Linked DNA regions of Homo sapiens. The protein of the gene in region 1 purifies or fractionates together with the protein of each later gene. This does not show direct contact. Each region holds a gene or a part of one and is shown on either strand. Other genes may lie near its edges.

Region 1 (3,803 bases):
TATTCTGTGAGATACCTACTGCCATACTTTGGTGTGCAATGTCACGATAGAACAAATGTGGCAAAATATTAATAATCACTAAAACTAGGTAAAGAGATACAGGTATTAGTTGCAACATTTTTCCAATTTTGCTTAAGGTTAGAATGATTGATTATTTATTTGAGACAGAGTTTTGCTTTTGTGCCCAGGCTAGGCTGGAGTGCAATGGCGCAATTTCGGCTCACTGCAACCCTCGCCTCCCAGGTTCAAGCGATTCTCCTCCCTCACCCTCACAAGTAGCTGGGATTACAGGCATGTGCCACCACACCAGGCTAATTTTGGTATTTTTAGTAAAGATGGGGTTTCACCATGTTGGTCAGGCTGGTGTTGAACTCCTGACCTCCAGTGATCTGCCCACCTCGGCCTCCCAAAGTGCTGGGATTACAGGCATGAGCCACTGTGCCCGGCCAATTTTTTAAAATTTTAAAATGAGATAGGGATTTCTGTTTTTTCAGTGAGAGATTTATCATGCATCAGCCTGAACAGAATACATATAACGCATACCATTTTAGTCTTTCCAATCATGGGCAATACTTTTGCAGTTGTCATTAAAATTGTAAATATGTTTTGCAATTTATACTTTCAGACATTTCAGATGCCAAAAATCAAAAGAGCTTACAGAATGGTATTCTTTTGATGTTTATATTCAAATTTTCCACAGAGGGTTGTTACACATTTTTAAATTAAGTTTACAGATTGTGATTAATTTATCCTATCAAGTGATTTACCACCTAATTGCCAAATTAAGCTGGAAAAAAAGCATATTGGGTTGGTACATTAAAAATGAGCAAAAACCACAATTAACTTTCGCACCAACCTATAGCAATATGCATGTGTTGGCCTGCAAACCGTATCACAGCAAAGCAAAAGAAAAGCTTAACAAAATCAGATTTTCTTTCTTTTTTTTCAGACAAAGGTTGATGAATTGCATGAGTGGGATCCACCTTAGCTACGGAGACCTAATGCCTTGGGGTTTTACTCCTGCTGTCCTAGTCATTTCTTTTCTTTCTTTCGAAACAGAGTTTCACTCTGTTGCCCAGGCTGGAGCGCAGTGGCACAATCTCGGCTCACTGCAACCTCCACCTCCCAGGTTCAGATTCTCCTGCCTCAGCCTCCCAAGTAGCTGGGATTACAGGCACATGCCATCACACCCAGCTAATTTTTGTACTTTTAGTAGAGACGGGGTCTCACCATGTTGGCCAAGCTGGTCTTGAATTCCTGACCTCAAATGATCCACGTGCCTCAGTCTCCCAAAGTGCTGGGATTACCCGTGTGAGCCACTGCACCTGGCCAGTCCTAGTCATTTCTAATATAGCATTTGTCCCACGCAAAAGCATCTCAGATAAGTGTCCCAGTTTAGATGCAACATTATATGGTATATAGCACTTTTAACAACTTTTGTTATATGATGACATACAGTTGGTTTATGGGGGGACAAATCAGTATAACGTGAAGTTAACTTCTACTTTAAACAAAACACATTTAGTACATGATAGTAAAGTCATCACTAGAATGAACATAACATATTGAGATAACTGCTTTTACTCTTTTAGAATAAAAAAGGAGAAACCAAAATTATATTTTATCTATTGTGCAATATAAAATAAAATACTGCACATGGGAGGAATACTAGAATTAGAGTCAAAAGGCCTGTTTAAATCCCAGCTGGGTCACTTGACAGAGAATATAAACTTGCGTAAGTTACTGAATCTGTTTCAACCACAGCTTTCTCACTTGAGAAATGAAGAAGTCAGAATGCTGGCTGATCTCTATCTAAAGTCATAGTCCAGCTCTAAATATTCAATGATTCTATGATTCTGGCCTCCAAAATATTTTTTCAGACTAGACCAGCTGAGTTCTACTGGTCTAGACCAGTACTGGTAGATTTTTTTTTTACAACTGCAAAATGTAACTTAGCATCTTCTCTCCCCAAACTCCTATTTCTGCTCTGACTTGTTCTGTTCAGAGGTTGGGTCAAACTCTCATTCACCCATGATGAAGATTCCTATGTATTTTTGACTCCTCTGACACCTAATCAGCTGTCAAATCCCAGATTCTTAACTTCCTCAGTATCTTATACACTCATCTTTTTTTTCCTTTCTCTCTCTTTTTGCTTTGAGACAGGGTTGCACTCTGTTTCCCAGGCTGGAATGCAGTGGCACAAACTCAGCTCACTGAAGCCTCAAACTGCTGGGCTCAAGCAAACCTCCCACCTCAGCCTCCCAAGTAGCTGGGACTACAGGTGCACACCACCACACCCAGCTAATTTTTTAAAATTCTTTTGTAGAGGCAGAGTCTTATCATGTTGCACAGGCTGGTCTCAAACTCCTGGGCTCAATCCTCCTGCCTTGGCCTCCCAAAGTGCTGGGATTACAGGCGTTAGCCACTGGGTCCAGCCTCACTCACCTCTTTTTGCCACCACTTCAATTCAGGCCTCCATCGCTTCTTGCCTAGATCGCTAGTTTTCTCCCATAAATACACCTGGTTAGTAATCCCAGACCAGAAGATTATTCTATCACATCAGTACGCAACAAAAAGCATGCAATAGCTCCCATACCTAAAAATTTATGCACAAGTTCCTCAACCTGACATTCAAGAACCTCTATATCTGGCCTTAACCAGTTTGCTACAAATACCTTATATAACCTGAACTACCCACTGCAATATCAAAATCTCCTGTACTTTCTGGATTTTTGTGTCCTTACTTCTGTTGTTGTTCTTACAATGCCCTTTTATCTGCCTTTCAAAACTGATTCCATTCTTCAAAGTTCAGTTCTAATGGTAATCGCCCTCATGTAGATATTATGGCTCCCATGATACTAACATAATGTGACAATTTTAATGGCCAACTGTGAATTTTAAAAGACAGTTTACCTATGATAGTAAACTAAATTTATTATTTGTGCCAATGTTGTTTAACTGGCACTGGCTACCAGGCACACTGTCTTGAGGATTTGCAGCTTAGCAGAGGAAAAGGAGAATGGCAACACATCTTTGACATTCAGAAACCAGGGCTTCCAAATTGAGGATCTACATAATAGGGTCTAGGCTTCCATGTTATTAAAAGATTTTTTTTTCTTTTTTCAGACAGAGTTTCACTCTGTCAAGTAGGCTGGAGTGCAGTGGCACAATCTCGGCTCTCCGCTCCCAGGGTTCAAGTAATTCTCCTGACTCAGCCTCCCGGGTAGCTGGGAATACAGGCGCATGCCACCACGCCCAACTAATTTTTGTATTTTTAGTAAAAATGAGGTTTCACTATGTTGGCCAGGCTGGTCTCGAACTCCTGACCTCAAGCAATCCACCTGCCTTGGCCTCCCAAAGTGCTGGGATTATAGGTGTGAGCCACAGCACTCGACCAAAAGATGTTTAAATTAACTCAACATCTAAAAGTTTGGAGGCTTTCACGTTACAATTCCTAATGAAGATCTAGAGCAGTGGTTCTCAGCCAGGGTCGATTCTGCGCCACTCCCAGGGACATCTAGCAATATCTGGAAGCATTGGTGATTGTCACAACTGGACGGGGAGTGCTACTGCGGATGCTGAACATCCTGTGATGCACAGAACAACCCTCAAAATAATAAATTATCTGGTCCAAAATGTCAAGTGCCCAGATGAAAAAACTGATCTAGAAGTATTGCATGCATCTGTGGGTCCCGCCTACCAAAAGAAATTTTCAAATTTTGCAAGTTCGAAGCCTAAAAAGTTACTCCAATTACCAGTGATATGGTCTCCTCCAAGTTACTTAACCTCTTTATACATCAAAT
Region 2 (3,803 bases), on another chromosome or scaffold:
GTGGGCACCTGTAATCCCAGCTACTTGGGAGGCTGAGGCAGGAGAATCCCTTGAACCTGGGAGGCAGAGGTTGCAGTGAGCCGAGATTGCGCCACTGCACTCCAGCCTGGGCGACTGAGTGAGAATCCGTCTTGAAAAAAAAAAAAAAGAATGGCTGACCAGCATTTCTTATCCTGCTACGGGCCAAGCATTGTCCTAAGGGCTTTCCGTGTGTGGTCATCTTATCCAACCCTCTCGTCAAGCCTGTGAGGTAGAGATCACTGCTGTTCCCATTTTGCAGATGAGGAAGCTGAGGCTCAAAAGGGTTAAGTGACTTGCCCAAGGTTACCCAGCTATCGAGAACTAGAACCAGGGCTAGGGCCGCGGCAGCCTGGCCTGAGCACACACACCCTTAGCATCTTTGCTGTCCAGCCCTTGATGAGGTGGGCAGAGAAGCCCATTTCACAGAGGAGGACGCTGAGGACAGGGAGGCGCCATGGCTGGGCTGAGGCTGCAGGGTAAAGGGTATGGGGCTGGCATAGGCCTGGAGCACTGCCTGCCTCTGAAGACCCTGCACTTCTTGCTGTCTTACATCCTGGCCCCTGAAGGGGAGAAGACAGGCAGGAGGGACAGGGCAGCAGGTGCCAGCCTGACCCCTCCGCTGCCTGAACCTTCCACCCTCGACCCAGGCAAGACCACACCATTGTGGACACAGTGCTGATGGCGCCCCGCTCGGCCAAGCCGGCCCTGCTGAAGCTTACAGAGAAGCAGGTGGAACAGAGGGCCTTCCACGACCTCAAGGTGGCCCCCGGCTACTACACCCTCACTGCAGACCAGGGTAGGAGGGCGGGTCCGCTGTGCCACTGCCTCGCACCTCCCGCCTGTGTGGCCCTGTGACCCACCTCTGACCACCTCCGAACCCCCACCCAGACGCCCGGGGCATGGTGGAGTTCCAGGAGGGCGTGGAGCTGGTGGACGTACGGGTGCCCCTCTTTATCCGGCCTGAGGATGACGACGAGAAGCAGCTGCTGGTGGAGGCCATCGACGTGCCCGCAGGCACTGCCACCCTCGGCCGCCGCCTGGTAAACATCACCATCATCAAGGAGCAAGGTGGGTCTGGGTGGGGAGAGTGGGGAAGGCAGACGGGGGCTCGGGGGCACTGGTTCCTCCTGCTTAAGTGGAATTGCGACCTGGCCACGTGGCCTGGGCTAGTCACTTAACCTCTGCAAGCCTTGGTTTCTCCATCTGTAAAATGGGTAAGGGCTCTTTTACGGAATGCGTGGCTGTTCACCTCGCCACAGTGCCTGCCTGGTGGTGAGCGCTCAGTAAATGGAAGCTTCTGTTGCATCCTCATAAGGGCCAGCCCCTTGCTCCTCTCTATCTAGAAAAAGGGTTGGCCAAGGCATCACACCGTGGACATCTGACCCCTCCTCCCACCTGTGCCGGAAGCCACAGGCCTCAGGCCTGTTCCTGCTCTCCTCCAGCCCTGGGGCTGAAGGCTCCATCTCTGGTCCTGCCCGTGACTGGCCTCCCTCCTCTGCCTGGCCCTTCCAGGATGTCTGCTGGACACTTTGTTCCAGAACCACTTTTTTTTTTCTTGGGACAGAGTCTTGCTCTGCCACCCAGGCTGGAGTGCAATGGCACCATCTTGGCTCACTGCAACCGCTGCCTCCCAGGTTGAAGTGATTCTCCTGCCTCAGCCTCCCGAGTAGCTGGGATTACAGGCACTCGCCACCACGCCCAGCTAATTTTTCTATCTTTAGTAGAGATGGGGTTTCGCCATGTTGGCCAGGCTGGTCTCGAACTCCTGACCTCAGGTGATCCACCTGCCTCAGCCTCCCAAAGTGCTGGGATTACAGGCACAAGCCACTGCGCCCGGCCCCTCATCTTTTTCTGGAAGGATTTTCCGTTTCGCTCCTGTGCCCTTCCCAGAGGGCAATGCATAGAGGGAACCAAGCGGACTCCTGGATTCTGGGCTGGGCTGGGCAGGGTCACAGGAGAGCAGGAGGTGGGAAGGGACTGGGCCCAGCACACTCTGACAAATGCCCGGGCTCCTTGCAGCCAGAGACGTGGTGTCCTTTGAGCAGCCTGAGTTCTCGGTCAGCCGCGGGGACCAGGTGGCCCGCATCCCTGTCATCCGGCGTGTCCTGGACGGCGGGAAGTCCCAGGTCTCCTACCGCACACAGGATGGCACCGCGCAGGGCAACCGGGTGAGGCTGCGCCACAGGGTCGAGGGTGCAGCCCGGGGGGCTGCGTGGGCACCGCATTGGGTTCCCAAGACAAAGCAGCACATGGCAGCTGCTTGAGTCCCTGGATACTGGCCGTGCCCCTGGCTGGCCTCCCAAGGACACGTCCACCTGCTCCTGCCACCCTGTGGCAGGGGAGTCTCACCTGCCCAGGGTGCCAGTGACACGCTGGATGAGGCTCCATTGCTGCCAGGGACTCAGGCCAAGAGGGCTCGCTCTTTTTTTTTTTTTTTTTTTTTTGAGACAGAGTTTCGCTCTTGTTGCCCAGGCTGGAGTGCAATGGCACAATCTCAGCTCACCGCAACCTCCACCTCTCGGGTTCAAGCGATTCTGCTGCCTCAGCCTCCCTAGTAGCTGGGATTACAGGCATGTGCCACCACGCATGTCTAATTTTGTGTTTTTAGTAGAGACGGGGTTTCTCCATGTTGGTCAGGCTGGTCTGGAACTCCCGACCTCAGGTGATCCGCCCGCCTTGGCCTCCCAAAGTGCTGGGATTACAGGCGTGAGCCACCGCGCCCGGCCCAAGAGGGCTCTTTCTTCCTTCATGGGCCAGGGACCTGCCCAGACCATTCCTGTCCCCTCCTACAACTCAGGATCCACAGGGTAGCCAAACCTCTTGGAGATAAACTCCCCCTATATGCCCCAGTCCAGGGGGCTTTGGGTTTCTTGAGCTGGGATCGAAGACCCCATGTCCCCAGGCCAGACTCCCCAAGGGCTGTCACAATTTGCCAAGCAGCAGGAGCAACCCTTCAAGGCAGGGAGTGCCATGGCTGGACCAGCATCACCTTCACTGCTGAGCCCCAGTGCTGGGGTACAGCCAAATCAGGTGGCACACAGGCTGGACTGGGTTTACAGGCTTCATAGTTTTGTTTCTTTTGTTTTGTGTGGGGATTTTTTGCTTCTTAATTTTTGGGGGAGACAGGGTCTTGCTATGTTGCCCAAGCTGGTCTTGAACTCCTGACCTCAAGTGATCCACCCACCTCGGCCTCCCAAAGTGCTGGGATTACAGGAGTGAGCTACCACGCCCGGCCTAGTTTTTGTATTTTTAGAAGAGATGGGGTTTTGCCATGTTGGCCAGGCTGGTCTTAAACTCCTGATCTCAAGTGATCCGCCCACCTCGGCTTCCCAAAGTGCAGGGATTACAGGTGTAAGCCAGTGCACCTGGCCTTTCTAGTTTTTAAATGTTGGCAACAAATCCATAATTAAAAACAAAGGCGGGGCATGGTGGCTCACACCTGTAATCCCAGCACTTTGGGAGGCTAAGGTGGGAGAATCACTTAAACCCAGGAGTTCAAGACCAGCCTAGGCAACGTGGTGAGACCATGTCTATACATATAATTTAAACATTAGCTGGGCATGGTAGTGCATACTTGTGGACCCAGCTACTTGGAAGGCTGAGGCAGGAAGATCACTTGAGGCCAGGAGGTTGAGGCTACAGTGAGCCATGTTCATGCCACTGTACTTCAGCCTAGGCAACAGAGTAAGACCCTGTCTAAAAAAATAATAATAATTAATTTTTTAAAAATCAAACAAAAAAACAAAGAAACAAAACCTGGCTCAGTGCAGTAGCTCATGCAT
Region 3 (3,803 bases), on another chromosome or scaffold:
CCGTGCCTAGCCTCAGAGAAATCTTTTTAAGGATTAGACAAGCATTTTATTTTTATTACAAGAATTAGACAAAACATTCAAACAATGCTAAAGATAATGCTGCCAAAATGACAGAGACAGCAAGTAGTTCAGTGTTTTAAGGATGCTACGGCAGTTTCATATTGCTATTCTTTTAAAAAGGGAATAAAGGAGGCACCTAAGTTGGGAAACTTGTCTAGTACCCTGAAGAAACAGTTTCTCCAAGGCAACTAAAGACAGGCGGCTCCCTTAACTTTCTCCCTCCAATATCACGGCAATAACTGCTAATTCTGAAGTGATCTGAAGACGACTCACTAAAAAATTTACTCTTAGACCAGTCCTTGTATTATAAGAACCTTTGGAAACAATCTTTCAGTTTTTCAGTTTATCTGAAGTACAGTGGAAGAAAATGCACACTAAGAGAATAATCTTGGGTTGTTCTGATAGAGAAGGGGGAAGGATTCTACTTCCTAAAGCATATAAATAATTTCAAATATTAAAACACTCTAAGAAACCCACCAGGAGGGCTTAACCCTTGTAAAAACGTTAGAAAAAGAATATCAAGAGACAGTAAACTTTTAGGGGGCAACTTAACAACAAGAAATTAGTGAGGCAAATAAGCACAGGAAGCTTGTTCCATGTAGTCAAATCCATCAAAAAGGATTGTGCATAAAAAGGGTCAGCATGTAAAGAATGAGGAGAGAAGCTAACACTGGAGAGGACAGGGTGGATAATAAAGTAAGGTGAGGTCAGCTAGGGCTAATGAGTGGGAAAACATTTTGTGTGTAAGTAATCACTATAAAATATTTCATAGCTGTTACGTCTCAAACTATCCCAACTCTATAGACAAATCACTCTTCTATTCATGTACCAGGTATGGTGAGTTGCTCCTGTGGTTCAAGGTAGAGAAAGGATTTATATACATCACTTGATCCCATCCAATGCTCAAATCCTTAGAAAGCACTACTTCACACCAAGATTCTTCTTTTTTTCTGAGATAGAGTCTCACTTTGTCACCCAGGTTGAAGTGCAGTGGCGCAATCTTGGCTCACTGCAACCTCCGCCTCCTGGGTTCAAGTGATTCTCCTGCCTCAGCCTCCCGAGCAGCTGGAATTACAGGTGTGCACCACCACACCCAGCTAATTTTTGTATTTTTAGTAGAGATGGGGTTTCACCATGTTGGCCAGGCTGGTCTCTAACTCCGGACCTCAGGTGATCCTCCCACCTCAGCCTCTCAAAGTGCTGGGATTACAGGCGTAAGCCACTGCACCCAGCCTTCTTTTTTTTTAAATCAAGGATTTTCAAATGACACGTAAACAGAATAAGGAAACACATCATCTTGGATAATCGAATGGAACCAAACTGAGATTCCCTTCCATGCAGTATCTGTAATTCAGGTATATGTGTCTAAAATTTGTAATGTAAAAATGATCACTGAAAATTGAGTAGTGGACTAACATGCAGATTTGGACAGCTCAGAGACCAAATGCATCACCAGGAAACCCTTCGTACTATATGCTTAGGCAACCAATCCACTGTTTTAAGATCCCTTAAGAATAGGATAGACTAGATCCTGGAGAATCTTGGTATGGCTACCACTTTTAGAAACAAAAGGATTGAATGAATACAAAATTATCACAAGATTTAAATGGTCTCTCTGGGCCACAGAGCCTCAGTTCAAAGAAGCTGGTGGGAACTGCACAGGGCAGGTCTGTTGAGGGTTCTACTGAAGAAACAAGGTATCAAATTGTTTGGATTTTAATCCCCCAGCATCACAATTCATTTTACTTGTTCAGCTAGTAAGACAGAAACACAGTTAAGGGCCGGAGATTTTTCTCAGCGGATTTATGCAGTAATAGATTAAAGTAAAATCAAATTCTACAAATTAAGTGAAAAGTACATTTTACATGCACTGATGTTCAAAGTTTCATTCCAGGGAGATTAAACATGAAACATATATTTAATACTGAATAACTATCTCAAAGAATTTTGTGTTTAATGGCACAGAAAGAACTGTGACTGTCTCATGAAACTTCCTGCTTCCCTGTAAACAAAAGAGAACATGTGTGATTTTCAATTTAAATAAGATCTTCTCCACTTGTCTGCTCAGTGTTCCTAACCTCCACCCTCTTCTTCCTCATATCCCACTGAGGGAAGTAACTAGCCTAGGATTTATTTTTCTCAGAGCAACCAACTTGATACCATTGTTTCTTTTAATTGTAACCAAGGCTTAATCAAAAATTTTGGCTTTATAATGACCATTTCCACAGTTCCCACTTCACACCCTCCTTGTCCTTCACTGTACATTGTCGTTGTCCACCACCCCTACCCACCAGGAGTGGAATCTGTTTTGAGTACAGGGACCCACTTTTTTTTCCTTTTACCTCACTAGTCCTGGCACAGTGCTTAGCAAACACAAGTAGCTCAATAAATAAATACTTATTGATGGACATAAGGAAGAGAACTGGACACTGTGCAAAGCCTGTCTCAGTATGAAAAGCCAAAACTCCCAGCAGAGCAACTGATCTCAGTCACCTTTCCAGAGTTCTCCCTGGCCCAAGAGAGCCAATGTGAATCCCAGGACTCCCTGTGTTACAGGAATAAAGTAGCTCTGGCAAAAACAGGCTTTTGCAGCAAATGCTCTAAGAGATCAGGGAATAAGCACCATAGGGTTCCATCTAGGAAAAATATTAATTTTCCTTGAGGAGCAAAGTGCACATGAAGGGCTTCCTGTGCATGGGCCAGCTTGGGGCGAAATCAGTAACATTCTTAAAACATTCTAAAACACAATTTGTACTGGGTGCCTTCAGACTAAGCCAGCTTCTAACAATTCTAGCCAAAGTTTTTTTGTTTTTTTGTTTTTTAAATAATTTCTGTAGCTTCCAGATGACACTAACACTAACTTTGTCAAAAATAACTAATTGATATGTGTGTGGGGGGGAAGCACTCATCCCTCACCTTCCACAAAACATAAGATATTCAAAATTCACACTTTCTTCAGCTTGCCTAGTGTCAAATATTGCCCGTTGGATATATGTATCTATTAAAGTCCACATACTACCTTTAGCCTGTCTTAGACCCATAAAAAAGTCCTTTTTAACTGAGGAGACCAGAGAACAAACTATTGAGGCCAATAACTTATACTCTAACAAAGCAGTGACCACTGGACAATGAGTTCTGCGTATTTCTCAAAGTGAAATGAATGGCACTATTATCAATCCACAGATAAGAAATTAGAAGGGGAAAAGCTTTTCATTAATAACAAAGGTGGCTGGGTACGGCGGCTCACGCCTGTAATCCCAGCACTTTGGGAGGCCGAGGTGGGCAGATCACAAGGTCAAGAGATTGAGACCATCCTGGCCAACATGGTGAAACCCCGTCTCTACTAAAAATACAAAAATTAGCTGGGCATGGCGGTGCGCGCGCCTGTAGTCCCATCTACTCAGGAGGCTGAGGCAGGAGAATCATTTGAACCTGGGAAAAGGAGGTTGCAGCGAGCCAAGATGGTGCCACTGCTCTCCAGCCTGGCGACAAAGAGAGACTCTGTCTCAAAAAAAAAAAAAAAAAAAAAAAAAAGAGAAGAACTAAGGACCGCTCTTGTTATCTTGGTGGGGGAAAAACATAATCTGCAAAAAGTCTGAACTGGGCAGAGTGGCTCACACCTATAATCCCAACAGTTTGGGAGGCTGAAGTGGGAGAATCGCTTGAGCTCAGGAGTTGAGAGACCAGCCTAGGCAACACAGCAAGACTGTGTGTTTTTTTTTTTAAGGTATTAAAAGTCTGAT
Region 4 (2,593 bases), on another chromosome or scaffold:
GCTGGCTATTTTAGTGTTAGCGAAGTCCCAGTTAAAAATCTGTCCTAGAAACTAAAGGGGATTCTGAGCAGTTTTTTTCTTAACCCCTTTATATTTAATACGTTAAATAATTCAATAAGATAGAAAGAAAGTCTACCACATAGAATAAAGTCTGAAAAGCTGCCTCAAAAAAAAAAAAAAAAAAAAAAAAACAGCAACATAACCAAGACTAAATTTACCAATTAAACAAAAACAGGCTTTGAACAAGGCACCAAGGATATTCTAAATTTGGTAAACACCCTAAAAAGATACAGAAGTTCCCTTCTTTATTCAGTCGAAGGGAAGGAAAAAGTATCATAATTAGAATGAATTATGAATTTACATCTAAACTTATTTGAAAATCTAAGAAAACCAAGTTGATCGCATCAACACTCTAATTGTGAAAGATCTATCAGATGGTCAGTGAACTTCAGACAATCCTCAATTTAAGAGCTCAAATTTGAATATGAGGAGTTAACACAGAAGCTCTAGGCAGCTCTTATAGATGTAAAATATTTTATTTGTAAATGGTGATCTTCTAAATCTGTGTCCACAAATTCCAAAACCCATAACACTCTGTATACTTCAAAAAATTCAATTTTTGCCAACATTAGATACTATTATACAGAACAGAAAACAACAAAAACCCGGTAGGACAAATACTGGTAGGATGTCAGGATATTGTACAAGAGAAGAAAAATATTCAGGAAACAAATTTCATACAGCTATTTATCAAGAGAAAAATATATACAATTGATTTATTCTGTAAGATAAAAATACATCATGCCATATACAAGTTCAGAACTGCATCACTGAATATACCAACAGTTTACAGTCCACTTGAATTGTGCACACAAAACTTCATTTTATACTTAGCCTGTGAAGTGTCAGTACCAGAATTTTAAGTACAAAATAAAAAGCTAACCTGGTTCAAAATGCTGATTAAGTTTCTACAAGCAAACACAAAACAGTGTTTTTTTTATTAAAGAAATGTAAACAAACAGTTCATACAAACACATTTTAAAATTACATCTTCCAAAAACCCTATTGCCAGAGTCCTGCAGCTGTAAGCATAATCACATCTCCTTTTTTTTTTTAACTTTTTCAAATTTTTGTGTTAAATAGAAGGCTAAAGGGTTAGATTTAAGTTTCTGCTACATGATCCTATTACGTTTACATGATTCTCTGTGGCTGAAACAAAGTTCTAATCAAAACTACTTTTGCTGAAGAAAAAATTCAGCCTCCATTTGGGTGTATTTTTAAGCAGTTATTCACAGTTATCACAAATTGTAAGCACAAAAAAACCTGACTGAAGAAGTAGGGATGCAACAATATAATATGAAAAAATTAGTTTAAATTACCAAAACAGCTATAAAAGTTGTAGTCGTAGCATACGCCCCGCTCTGTCAGAAGTAAGGTGTATAAAACCATTGAGTACTAATAGACTGCGGTTTCCAAAAAACCCCCAACACTCTAGGTTGAAATTTTGGTTATTACATAATTATAATGGCATATTTTATAACACAAAATTATATTGTAACATCCCTATGAACATTTTATAAGCCCCCGAGCTGCTGCAGAGCCTGGTAGCATTTGGTCAATAACTATTTTTATACTGTATTTTTTCTCAAAATATTTACATATCTGTACAAAGTAACAGGGTTTGTTAGTTCTGCAGGTAACAGCAGCAGCTTGGCTTTCTTCTAACTTTATTTAAAAATAGCTTCATTCACTTATTCAATAATAAATACAAAAGTTTCTCTTATTTTACAGAAATCAAAAACTACAATAAACTGACTCATGGAATCAAGTATTTAAATGTATTTAGTGCAAGTTATTATCCCTTAGCTCTATCCCTAAGGAAGTCATTTCAGTACATTCCTTGTTCAGTGGTGTCTACTTTATTTAAAAACATTTTGAAGTTAGAGGGCCTGCCCCTTTTTAATAAGGCCGTGGCCAGCACTCTCTGTCCCCCTCGCTGGTGATTTCAGTCTTACATTCATAGGAAGGCCCCTGCCCGGGGCAGGGCAGCCATCGGCTCTTTGCCCCAGTAAAAGTTTCTCCTTAGTGAGACTAGAAAACCAAAACAATGAAACCCACCCACAAGGGAAAAACAAAACAAAAAACAAACAAAAAAAAAAGAAAAGGAAAAGAAAAAAAAGCAAAAGTGCTGGACCATTCTGTGATTCCGTTTAACCTCGGCCACTTCAGGAACGCTGCTTCTGTCAGCTTCCTCCTGGCGCTGCTTTAACCTAAAGGACTGAGGAAATCAGAACTCCCAGAAGCTTTTTCAAAAAGTCATAAAACAGAAAACAAAAATCTCTTTCTGTCTGCAAAATTCCAATGGTGTGTTGAATCGCCTCTTCCTAGGGACAAGCCGCCCGCTGAGCTAGCAAGGAATGCATTTCAGTTCATCCACTTCCGGCAGTTCACAGCTCCACAGTGACACGGAATCTTGTGCTGGTCATCTTCAAAGTCAAACTTATAGTCATAGCAGAGCTGCCCACGGCAAAGACACAGGGTAAGAAAGGACAGCAAGGAAGGCAATAGCGTTTCTGCCTCCATCTCCCTTGCA

What was found.
Region 2: the proteins of TNRC6A (region 1) and ITGB4 purify together in Homo sapiens (affinity purification with mass spectrometry; one large-scale study listed by BioGRID and IntAct). This does not show direct contact.
Region 3: the proteins of TNRC6A (region 1) and CPSF7 purify together in Homo sapiens (affinity purification with mass spectrometry, with the first as the bait; one large-scale study listed by BioGRID). This does not show direct contact.
Region 4: the proteins of TNRC6A (region 1) and KMT2C purify together in Homo sapiens (affinity purification with mass spectrometry, with the first as the bait; one large-scale study listed by BioGRID). This does not show direct contact.

Annotation. Positions count from the first base shown.
Region 1 is NC_000016.10:24,732,528-24,736,330, reverse strand, and holds part of TNRC6A (trinucleotide repeat-containing gene 6A protein), read right to left. Parts: intron 1-3,803.
Region 2 is NC_000017.11:75,741,673-75,745,475, forward strand, and holds part of ITGB4 (integrin beta-4 isoform 1 precursor), read left to right. Parts: intron 1-668; coding exon 669-817; intron 818-909; coding exon 910-1,089; intron 1,090-2,040; coding exon 2,041-2,189; intron 2,190-3,803. UniProt on the Homo sapiens protein: Integrin alpha-6/beta-4 is a receptor for laminin. Plays a critical structural role in the hemidesmosome of epithelial cells. Is required for the regulation of keratinocyte polarity and motility.
Region 3 is NC_000011.10:61,423,459-61,427,261, forward strand, and holds part of CPSF7 (cleavage and polyadenylation specificity factor subunit 7), read right to left. Parts: intron 1-3,803.
Region 4 is NC_000007.14:152,134,408-152,137,000, forward strand, and holds the end of KMT2C (histone-lysine N-methyltransferase 2C), read right to left. Parts: intron 2,518-2,593; coding exon 2,425-2,517; 3' UTR 518-2,424; downstream 1-517. UniProt on the Homo sapiens protein: Histone methyltransferase that catalyzes methyl group transfer from S-adenosyl-L-methionine to the epsilon-amino group of 'Lys-4' of histone H3 (H3K4).